Regions from separate parts of the Homo sapiens genome. Here region 1 is linked to region 2. Evidence: fine-mapped expression QTL. A gene starts in region 2. The other region holds a variant in brackets. All regions are shown on one strand. Distances are from middle to middle. Region 1 holds the start of FNDC10 (fibronectin type III domain containing 10). Region 2 holds the start of SSU72 (SSU72 homolog, RNA polymerase II CTD phosphatase).

What was found. PIP is the estimated chance that this variant, and not a neighbour inherited with it, causes the effect.
Region 1: its variant is fine-mapped to the expression of SSU72 in whole blood (TOPMed, PIP above 0.99).

Annotation. Positions count from the first base shown.
Region 1 is chr1:1,595,499-1,600,860 of GRCh38, reverse strand. FNDC10 (fibronectin type III domain containing 10) reads left to right here and starts at 726. Exons shown (of 1, transcript NM_001242659.2): 1 at 726-2,849. The coding sequence starts at 846. The coding sequence ends at 1,526. LOC105378586 (a long non-coding RNA gene) reads right to left here and starts at 1,428. Exons shown (of 3, transcript NR_147951.1): 1 at 1,245-1,428; 2 at 155-204. RefSeq lists enhancers at 1-252, 253-912, 913-1,572, 1,573-2,231 and silencers at 650-699, 1,000-1,119, 3,348-3,397. The variant G/C (reference allele first, on the strand shown) is at 2,762.
Region 2 is chr1:1,572,873-1,578,234 of GRCh38, reverse strand. SSU72 (SSU72 homolog, RNA polymerase II CTD phosphatase) reads left to right here and starts at 3,372. Exons shown (of 5, transcript NM_014188.3): 1 at 3,372-3,757. The coding sequence starts at 3,678. SSU72-AS1 (SSU72 antisense RNA 1) reads right to left here and starts at 3,288. Exons shown (of 1, transcript NR_197593.1): 1 at 1,164-3,288. RefSeq lists enhancers at 639-1,181, 3,099-3,168, 3,179-3,288 and silencers at 1,580-1,749, 3,409-3,568, 3,809-3,888.

The DNA of each region.
Region 1 (5,362 bases), 23 kb before region 2:
GCTTTTTGGATTCCCTTTGTCCAGCCCTGACCTCCCCACAGCCATCGGGAGGGCCCCCCAGAGCGCATCTGGAGGAGGAGGGGGCGCAATGAGGCAGGGAAGGTCGGCGCCCTGCAGCTGCCTCCGCTGCGTGTGGAGCGAAGGGAGTTCTCACCTTGCGAAGTCTCATCTGTCAGGCTTTCCTCCGGGTGGGCGCTGTCCGTCCTGAAAGGAACAGAAGCCGCGGGGTGAAGGAAAGTCTCCGTGCTGGTCCCCACCCCATCGGTATGGGCAGGTACCCTGACTGCGCGGGTCCCCGCCGCGGGTCCAGGGCGGCCAGCGTTGGGGTGCAAGGCCCGGGGTCCTGCGCGTGCCAGACCGCTGCGCCCCCATCGTAAAGCACGAAGTCCCCGACTGGTGTGGCCACGGGCGGTCGCGGAGCTGCACGACGCGAAACGAAGCCGGCCACAGCCCGTGAGTTTCGGCTCGGAAAAGCCGCAGGGGTCCAAGGTGCGCTCACTAGGCGGGAAGCCGGGAGAGCGGCGGCCCTGCCCGCACCCCGCGCCCCTGCCCGCACCCCAGCCCCACCGGCACTCCGGCCGCCTCGCTGCGTCCCCCTCCTCCCCCCCACCCCCGATCCCCCGCACCCGTAGGCCGCGGCCCGGCGAGGGTTAAGGGGGGCGGGGCGAGGGGCGGCCCCGCCTCCGCCGCCGCGCCGGGTCCGAGCGCGCACGGGGCGCGGGGGCGGGTCGGAGCGGGCGGCGGCGGAGGGCGCGGCGCGCCGGGGATCGCGGGGAGCGGGCAGCGGGGACGGCGGCGGCGCGGCCCGCGTGACCCAGCGCCGCGCCCCGTGGCCCCGCCGCAGGATGCGCGCCCCGCCGCTGCTGCTGCTGCTGGCCGCCTGCGCGCCGCCGCCCTGCGCCGCGGCCGCCCCGACGCCGCCGGGCTGGGAGCCGACCCCCGACGCGCCCTGGTGCCCCTACAAGGTGCTGCCCGAGGGCCCCGAGGCGGGCGGCGGGCGCCTGTGCTTCCGCAGCCCCGCGCGCGGCTTCCGCTGCCAGGCTCCGGGCTGCGTGCTGCACGCCCCGGCCGGCCGCTCCCTGCGCGCCAGCGTCCTGCGCAACCGCAGCGTCCTCCTGCAGTGGCGCCTGGCCCCGGCCGCCGCGCGCCGCGTGCGCGCCTTCGCGCTCAACTGCTCGTGGCGCGGCGCCTACACGCGCTTCCCGTGCGAGCGCGTGCTCCTCGGGGCCTCCTGCCGCGACTACCTGCTGCCCGACGTGCACGACAGCGTCCTCTACCGCCTGTGCCTGCAGCCGCTGCCGCTGCGCGCTGGGCCCGCCGCCGCCGCGCCAGAGACCCCCGAGCCGGCCGAGTGCGTGGAGTTCACCGCCGAGCCGGCCGGCATGCAGGACATCGTGGTGGCCATGACGGCGGTGGGCGGCTCCATCTGCGTCATGCTGGTGGTCATCTGCCTGCTGGTGGCCTACATCACCGAGAACCTCATGCGCCCGGCCCTCGCGCGCCCCGGCCTGCGCAGACACCCCTGAAGCGCGAGGCCGCCCGCCCATCTTTGCGCCACCTGCCTGAGGGCGCCTGAGCTCCCAGGTCCTCCGCCCGCTCTCCTCTCCTCATTCCTGCTGCCTCCTTAAGATCCCCGCGGAGGAGGACCTGCCGGCGACGGCTCCGGCACTTTGGCATCATCACACGCCCTTTCCAGCCGGGCGTCAGACTCCCAGACTCTGGCCCCGGATTGGCCCCTGGGCTTGCGCTGCTGTGCCAGCCGCATCCAGGGCTCTCCCCGCTCTCCGCAGGCCTTTATAGAGGCGGCCAGGGCATGGAGCCCCTTCCAGCAAGAGCCATGGGCACTCCGGCTCACCCCGCACCTCCATCCTGTGCCGAATTGTCCCAGACAGACCGTCGCCATTGCTCGGTCACTGTGCTTTGCAGGCCTGGGGCGCAGCTCTCCAAGCCTGTCCTGCCCCGCCCCACCCCACTGGGCTTAGGTTAGCTTCGTGCCTTAGTATCTCGGGCCCACTGCAGGAGCCAACACCCTCTGCTGTCCAGGGGGGGTCTGTGGCCCTAAGATTGGCCGGCCTCTCCATGCATCTGGCCAGCGTCCCCTTGGAGACACCTTCACCCTCAAGCGCTGCAGAAGCATGAGGTGAGGGCCTGCAGCGCTCTGTACCGTTTAGGGTGTTGGACCAGCCGGGAGCCTGGCAGGCCTGGCCCAGCGGCCAGGGTGAGTGTTCTCAGACCCCGGGCAGCTGGTGGTTCTCCAGGGCCAGGTACCCCTTTTGTGTGTGCGACCTCTGACTAGGTCCCTGTGGGAATGGGGCAGATGGCGGCCATCACCACTGGGTCCCAGGGCAGAAGCTTAGATACCGGCCTTGAGCAGCCCGACCTTCCACCGCTGCCTGGATCCCAAGCCTCAGCCGACCCAGGGGACCTTGGTGGCAACGGTGTGACTGACAGCACCACCCCTAGCCTTTGCATGCCCAGGGGTCGAGAGCCAGTATCCGGCCCAGACAATGCCACCCGCCATGGAAGAAAAGCTGACCCTGCCCACCTGCTGCAGACCCGGGCCCCGGGCCGAGGTTGCTTTCTGTGACGACCGCCTGGTGACGCTGGACACCAGGAGGGTTATGGCACTGCCCTCCCCTCCTGGAGCCCCTGGCACTGACCACCTGGACTTGACCTGACTCCTGGTCACTGGCCAAACACCCATCCTCACCCCAGCCACCCCGGGCCCTGGCTGGTGCCGTGTGACACCTGTAGCCCACCT[G/C]TGTGTCTTTGCTCCGCCCACCCCTGCGTGGCGCCGGTCAGGCGCAAACCTGGCGCCAGTGTCTAAATGTCCATCATTCTCAGACCAACAGAGCTGTCTGTGTGTTATTTGGGAGGTGGGAGGGAAGGAAAAGGTGGATTCCCCTTCTCCCCACATCCCCTGGGACCCTTGGGTATGGGCTGGTGTCTGGCCCCAAACCCTCTCCTGGCCTGGGTGGCATTGGCCCAGGCAGCGTGTGCGGCACGCTGCCTTGCAGTTCCTAGCAGGACAGGCAGGGTGCCCCCTGTTTGTCTCTGCACCTTCTTGTCCTGGGCCAGCTGTGTTGGCGGGGGAAGGGGAAGACGGTACCTGCCGTGCTTAGAAATAGCCCATTCCCACGGCGACACACTTGAGCTGTGACAGTGGCAATTAGGCTGCTCCGGAGGGGCTCACCTCCCTGCCTGGGCCTCCCTGGCAGAGCTAGAGCTGGGGTGGGGACGGTGGGCAGAGGACAGCCTGGGGCTCCTGTGTGTATCCTGTGCTGAATGCCACCCTCCCTCCCCCACAGGCTCTTCCAGGCTGTCCTTGAGGCACTTGCAGCCAGGGGTGACCCTGAGGAAGCAAAAACAGGCGGGGGGGGGGGGGGCGGAGGGGGAGGGGGAGGAGGAGCCCAGCTCTGAGGAGTGACTCATCCCTAGAGGGGGTGTGCAGCGATGTGTGTAGACAGCCTGGTGGGAGTGGGGGGCTTCCCGTTCCAGCCACCTTCTGCCCTGGTCACCTGCAAGGGTGTTTCCATGTCTTCTACCAGCAAAGGCAGCGTCCAGGGAGCTGGGGCAGCACGGCTCCTTGGGGAGCAGCCGGGAAGTTTCGGAGGCTCCCTGGCCTGCGGTGGGATTCCGGCTTGTTTGTGAGCTTAGGCTCACACGGGCTATAGCCACAGGCCTGTCCTGCCAGTTCTGGGGGCTTCTCAGAGGCATGGAGTCCAGCTGAGGGTTTGCAGAAGTGGCTTGAGCAGCCTGCAAGGCCCAGGGGACAAGCCTTGGCCTGGGAGTGGGCGTCCCTGCCAGGGAGGGGCGTCTGCATCTGAGCTCGTGGTCACTGGCACAGACTGCTCGTTCCCTAGCTGGCCACCTTCCCGGCTGGCCCCATTATCCTCCCAGGGGCATGGGGACCCCCAACCCCTCCTTCTGACCTGGTGCACCTTCCAGTCCCGCCCCGAAGTTTCTTTCCTTCTGCTCTACCTGGAGGAGCCTCCCCTCCCTCTCTCTGTCTCTCTCCATTCTCTCCCTCTCCTTCCCATGTATCTCTCTGTCTCTGTCTCTGGCTCTCTCTCTCTCTCTCTGTTTCTCTCTCTCTGTTTCTCTGTCTCTCTTCATCTCTCTCTCTCCCTATCTCTCTGTCCCTGTCTCCATCTCCCTCCATCTCTCTCTGCCTCTCTGTCTCCATCTCTCTGCCTCTCTCTGTATCTGTCTCTGTCTCTCTCCATCTCTCTCTGTCCCTATCTCTCTGCCTCTTTCCCTCTCTCTGTGTCTGTCTCTGTCTCCATCTCTTTGTCTCTCTGCCTCTCTATCTGCCTCTCTCTCTCCATCTCTCTCTGCCTCTCTCTGTCTCTGTCTCTCTATCTGCCTCTCTCTCTCCATCTCTCTCTGCCTCACTCTGTCTCTGTCTCTGCCTCTCTCCATCTCTGTCTCTGCCTCTCTTTCTGTCTCTCTCCATGTCTCTCTGTCCCTCTCTGTGTCTTTCTCTATCTCTGTCTTTGTCTCTCTGTCTCTGTCTGTCTCTGTCTCTCTGTCTCTCCCCGCCCTGCTCTCTCTCTCCGTCTCTGTCTGCCTCTCTCTGTCTCTGTCTCTGTCTCTGTGTCTCTCCCCATTCTGCTCTCTCTGTGTCTGTCTGTCTCTCTCTCTGTCTCTGTTTGCCTCTCTGTCTCTGTGTCTCTCTCTGTCTCTCCCTGTTCTGCTCTCTCTGTCTGTCTGTCTCTCTGTCTGCCTCTCTCTGTCTCTGTCTCTGTTTCTCTCTGTCTCTCTGTCTCTCCCCGTTCTGCTCTCTCTGTGTCTGTCTGTCTCTCTCTGTCTCTGTCTGCCTCTCTCTGTGTCTGTCTCTCTCGCTCTCTGTCTCTGTTTCTCCCTGTTCTGCTCTCTCTGTGTCTGTCTCTCTCTCTCTCTCTGTCTGCCTCTCTCTGTCTCTCTCTCTCTCTGTCTCTCCCTGTTCTGCTCTGTGTCTGTCTCTCTCTCTGTCTCTGTCTGCCTCTCTCTGTCTCTCTCTCTCTGTCTCTCCCTGTTCTGCTCTGTGTCTGTCTGTCTCTCTCTCTGTCTCTGTCTGCCTCTCTCTGTCTCTGTCTCTGTCTCTGTGTCTCTCCCCATTCTGCTCTCTCTGTCTGTCTCTCTGTCTCTGTTTGCCTCTCTGTCTCTGTGTCTCTCTGTCTCTCCCTGTTCTGCTCTCTCTGTCTGTCTGTCTGTCTCTCTGTCTGCCTCTCTCTGTCTCTGTCTCTGTTTCTCTCTGTCTCTCTGTCTCTCCCCGTTCTGCTCTCTCTGTGTCTGTCTGTTTGTCTCTCTCTGTCTCTGTCTGCCTCTCTCTGTGTCTGTCTCTCTCGCTCTCTGTCTCTCTGTTTCTCCCTGTTCTGCT
Region 2 (5,362 bases):
GGTGAGCAAGAAAGAGAGGAGCTTCACTGAGCGACAGAACAGCTCTCAGGGGACCCGAAGTGAGTAGCTCCTTCCGCAGGCAGGTCGTCCCGAGTGCCTAGTTCTCAGCGGAGAGGAGACCCGGAGTAAGTAGCTCCTTCCCACAGGCAGGTGATCCCCACAAATTGAGGGGATCCCAAGTGGGTAGATCCTTCCCACAGCTGGTAGTCCTGACATCTCTGTGAGTATAGCTGAGTGGGATTTTTATGGGCTTCAGAAGGGAGAAAGTGTATACTGATTGGCCCATGGGCAGCCATGGACGGGCCCAGAAAAAGCACCATAAATCTCATTCTGGACGGCAGACTCCACCCAGAACTGGCAGCCCAGCCCCCATGTTTCAGGAAGTCCCTAGCTTTAATGGGGGTCTTCACTGGACACCCACCCCTTTCCACCCAGGAGCCTGTGTGCCTCCTACTGCCATCAATCATGTCATCTACAGGACCCAGGCTGTTCAGGTCAAGGGTCGCCTACAGGACTGGGCTGAGCCGCCCTCAGCCCCTCCTTGGCCTTGCTCCCATGCTTGTGAGCACTCAAAGTCCAGAGCGGGCCGAGGCAGCAAGGGGCTGGCATGCTAGCACTGCCCTCAGTGTGTGCACACCTGGCTGGGTTGCAACAGCGCCTGGGCTTGGCTTCAGCTTTGTCGGGAGTCAGGAGAGGCCAGGTAGCAGCTGGAGGCACTTCTGAGCTTTCGGGGGCAGGTGGGGTGGCTTCCCAGCCCTGGGATTGCAGGGATACCTGGGTCCACAGCCGTGGCTGGGCAGATGCAGCTGCTCCCAGGAGGGTGGGGCTCCTGTCCTGCCAACTTGGAAGGGGGCAGGGCTCCCACATGCTCAGTGGAGCACAGAGTCCCAGCTGAGCCTCCCCTGCTGTAGCCAGCATCTTCCCAGCAGCCACTCAAGAGAGGCTGCCACTGCCATCAATGGTATAACTGACATTTCACAATCAATAGCTTCTGCTGGTAACTTCACAAAAACCTGACCTAAGAGATCTTTAGTACCTATTGGTTAAATAAGGTATTAAATAAGTATGTCAATACTATATGCTGTATGTGGGTAAATTCCTCTGGAACACTGAGATCCATTTACACACAGAAAGAAAACAGGCACATGGTTACAAGTCTCGTGTAATTTCTATGGCCATTTTATTTATTCAATTGGCTTCCTTTAATCTCTATTTTTCTATTTTTGTTTTCTAATTTTTTTCTTTTTAATTGCTTTCCTTTAAGCCTAGGTTCATGGGTCAAAACCAATATGCAAACTGGGATAGTCATATTATTATTGATTTTACCTTGTATTTTCCCCTTTTAAACTTATTCATTGCCATATTTTGCAAAAGGACAATTTCTTTTTTTTTATTTTTTTGAGATGGAATCTCACTCTGTTGCCAGGGTGAACTGCATAGGCACAATCTCAGCTCATAGCAACCTCCGCCTCCTGGGTTTAGGTGATTCTCCTGCCTCAGCCTCCTGAGTAGCTGGGACTACAAGTGCGCACCACTACATCCGGCTAACTTTTGTATTTGTAGTGGAGACAGGGTTTCACCATGTCGGCCAGGATGGTCTCGATCTCTTGACCTCGTGTTCCACCCGCCTCGGCCTCCCAAAGTGCTGGGATTACGGACGTGAGCCACCGCGCCCGGCTACAAGTACAATTTCTAACAGAATAATGCTGACACAGCACTTTGAGATGATAGAAAGACTACAGAAGTGACAAAAGTTGAAGTTAATAATGGACTCCAGGTTAGACTTAGCCTGAGAGCCACACCCTTCAAACCTCCTTTGATGCTCAAATATGGTAAAAAAGGGTTTTGACAATGACTCCCAGCAGCCACTCTCTCCAGTGTGGGACCAGACCAGCTATCTGGGACAAGTTCATCCCAGCACGGGGACTATCAAAACCTAATTACAGGATGACTCATTAGTGATGCATTTGGAGAAAGATCTCAATCAAAAGGGGAAAATACCCAAGTTGTCAAATAAAAGTGGACTCACTTATGTTTAAAAAATACCTTGACAAAGACAGCTGGGAAAGGCCATGGAGAATTCTCATGAATCAATAATAAGAAAAACTATCACAAGATTCTGCAAAAACCACAACCTTGCACTAAGGCAATCTTACACAAAAAATACTTCAGCAAGGACAGCTGCCCAGCAACTGCCTGTCCAACCCTGGAACGGGAGTACACTTGTTTTTTTTTTTTTTTAGACGGAGTCTGGCTCTGTCGCCCAGGCTGGAGGGCAGTGGCGCGATCTCGGCTCACTACAAGCTCCGCCTCCCGGGTTCACGCCATTCTCCTGCCTCAGCCTCCCGAGTAGCTGGGACTACAGGCGCCCGCCACCACGCCCGGCTAATTTTTTGTATTTTTAGTAGAGACGGGGTTTCACCGGGTTAGGCAGGACGGTCTGGATCTCCCGACCTCGTGATCCGCCCGCCTCGGCCTCCCAAAGTGCTGGGATTACAGGCGTGAGCCACCGCGCCCGGCCGGGAGTACACTTGTTACTGTTCTTTGTAGCCAAGGTTAATTATTTCCAAACCATTATCTTCCTCTTCATTTTTTCTTTAAAAACCATTACTTTCCTGAATGCGCAAATCGTTTACTATGGCACGCATATTCGCCAACGCCCTATTCCCAAATAAATATCATTTTCAGTTAGCCTGTTATTAGGTTGACAATCATTATCACTCCCTCTCCCGTCCGTGGCGCTCCCACGGCAAAACATCAGCCCACTGTCCACCGCGAGGCTGCATCCAGGCAGACAGGCATAGCTGGGGAATGACACACTCGCGTTGACTGGATTTACTGTAACTGGACCCAAATCTCAGACCAGCCGGCGGCCTCTCCAAGGAAGCCCGAGGCGAGGAAGATCCTAGTCGACGTGCACTCCCAACCAGGTCTGTCACAGGTCGGCCCTCGCATTTAAACGTTAAATGTTGAAGGGCTTTCATAAAAGAGCGATGTGCTCCTGCTTGTATGAGCCGGGGCCGGAGGCCGGTAACAGCGGCACGGGACGGGAGCGAGCCTCAGAATGCGGGAATGTCTGTGGGCCTCCGGGACAGTGGAGGGAGCGGGTCTAGTGAAGCGCGACGACTCTGGGGTGGCAGAAGTGAGGACTATGGGCCCCACGGGGACCGAGGGAACGCACAAAATCGTCCCAAGAGACGAAACGCCGGGCCGCGGAAGGGCCCTCAATGCTATCTCCGGCAAGCGCGGCGTTTCGCATCGCTCCCAAAGGCGGCGGCGACACCTTATGACGTCCTGTTGTTCCGCACGTCGTCGCGTCACACTAGGCGCCGGCGCGGGGTGCTGATGTCAGGACGCCGCCGCTTGGCGCCGTGACGCTCAGCCGGGCCTTGTGGAGTGCGGGTCTCTGCTGCGGACGCCGGGGGCCGGCGCGGCGTTGGCCGCCCCCGGCCTCGCCGAGTGCAGCGCGCCCGAAGGCCAGTGCCTGCGCTCCGTCCGCGGCCCGGCGCCCAGGGTGGGCGGGGAGGCCGCCGCGCAGTCGCCGCACGCTACACCGCCGGCGCCGTCGTTTCGCGTCGCCCGCTTCCGGCCACCGCGGCCGCCATTTTGTTCGCGCGGAAGCGCCGCGGTAGGGTGGGAACCCAAGCGGGAGAGCCGCGGGATTTGCGGCCGCCGCCATGCCGTCGTCCCCGCTGCGGGTGGCGGTGGTGTGCTCGAGCAACCAGAACCGGAGCATGGAGGCGCACAACATCCTCAGGTAGTTGGGCTCCACCCTGTCCCCGCGCGCTCTGCTCCGGCGACCGGCCCTCCCTCCTCCCCGGTTCCCCCTGGCCCGCGCCAGGACCCCTGAGAGGAAGCCGGGCCGGGCCGCGCTCGTGGGTCGGCTGGTTGGGATGGCAGCTGGACGGCAGCGCGCGTAGTCCACACGCGGGTGGGCATCACAGGGAAGGCAGGTTCCGGGACGAGGCGCCCGCTGTCCGGTGGTCCTTCGAGCTCTCCGAGGCCGGGCCCGGGGGGCGAGGGTAGCGTCCGCGGCGAGGGGCTGCGCGGCGGCGGCCGATCATGGTATTTCGTGTGCGTCGTTGGCCACCTTCCCTGGAAACGGCGCGCAACACAATCACGGCATACCACGATGTTGTAAATAACAAAGCGGTCTCTTTTTTTAATGCCATGGATTTGTGTGTTTGCTACTTCTTCTTCTTTTTTTTTTTTTGCGAAAGATCCTCTCTTCCTCCCTGGAACGCCTCCAACCGGTAGTTTCTGGAATACAACGTGGACTTGGTTTGGCTCTGCTAGTTTATATTCCCTGCTAACTGGCCGCCTGTGACTCTTGCGTAGCGTATGTCTAATGAAAGTTTATTCCTGCTTGATAACAAGTTTTTTGTTCAGTCACATAGCAAACTGAGAAACTGACCACTTGACTTACAGTTAAAATTTGGTATGTGTCAACTTTGATAGTAAGAAAGTTGAAATGGCTTTTTTACCTCCAAAGTTACCTACGTGAACTTTAAATGAAAACAGTGTTTCGCTTCTCTTCTCGCAGTCCAGCTATAACTTTCCTGAGCAACTTGGGAAAATTAACAGTCCCCCTTTTTTTTCCGTTTTTAACAGTGTCACGTGGGCCAGGCACGGTGGCTCACGCGTGTAGTCCCCGCACTTTGGGAGGCCGACGCACGCGGATCACCTGAAGTCAGGAGTTGGAGACCAAAAAACACCCCCCAAAAATCAGTGTCAAGTGTTCATGATCTGCTGATTCTTTCTCTTTATTCTTTTCTTTCTTTTTTTTTTTTTTTTTTTTTTTTTTTGAGACAGAGTCTTGCTCTGTCGCCCAAACTGGAGTGCAGTAGCGCGATCTCGGCTCACTGCAACTTGTGCCTCCCGAGATCGAGCTATTCTCCTGCCTCAGCCTCCCGAGTAGCTGGGACTACAGGCACCGGCCACCAGGCACGGCTAATTTTTTTTTTTTTTTGTATTTTTAGTAGAGACGGAGTTTCATCATCTTAGCCAGGATGGTCTTGATCTTATGACCTCGTGATCTGCCCGCTCGGCCTCCCAAAGTGCTGGGATTACAGGCGTGAGCCACTGCGCCCGGCTTTTTTTGTATTTTTAGTAGAGACGGAGCTTCACCATGCTGGCCAGGCTAATCTCAAACTCCTGACCTCAGGTGATCTGCCCGCCTCGGCCTCCCAAAGTGCTGGGATTACAGGCGTCAGCCACCGCATCCGGCCAAAGGTTGTTTTTAAAACTAGAAATGTGCTAGAATTACATTGTGCTGGATCTTCATTTATAAACTGCAGTTACCTGTAAAAATTTGATACATTTAAGCAAAACAATGCAAGGCTCACCCCCCCCCCCCCAAGAC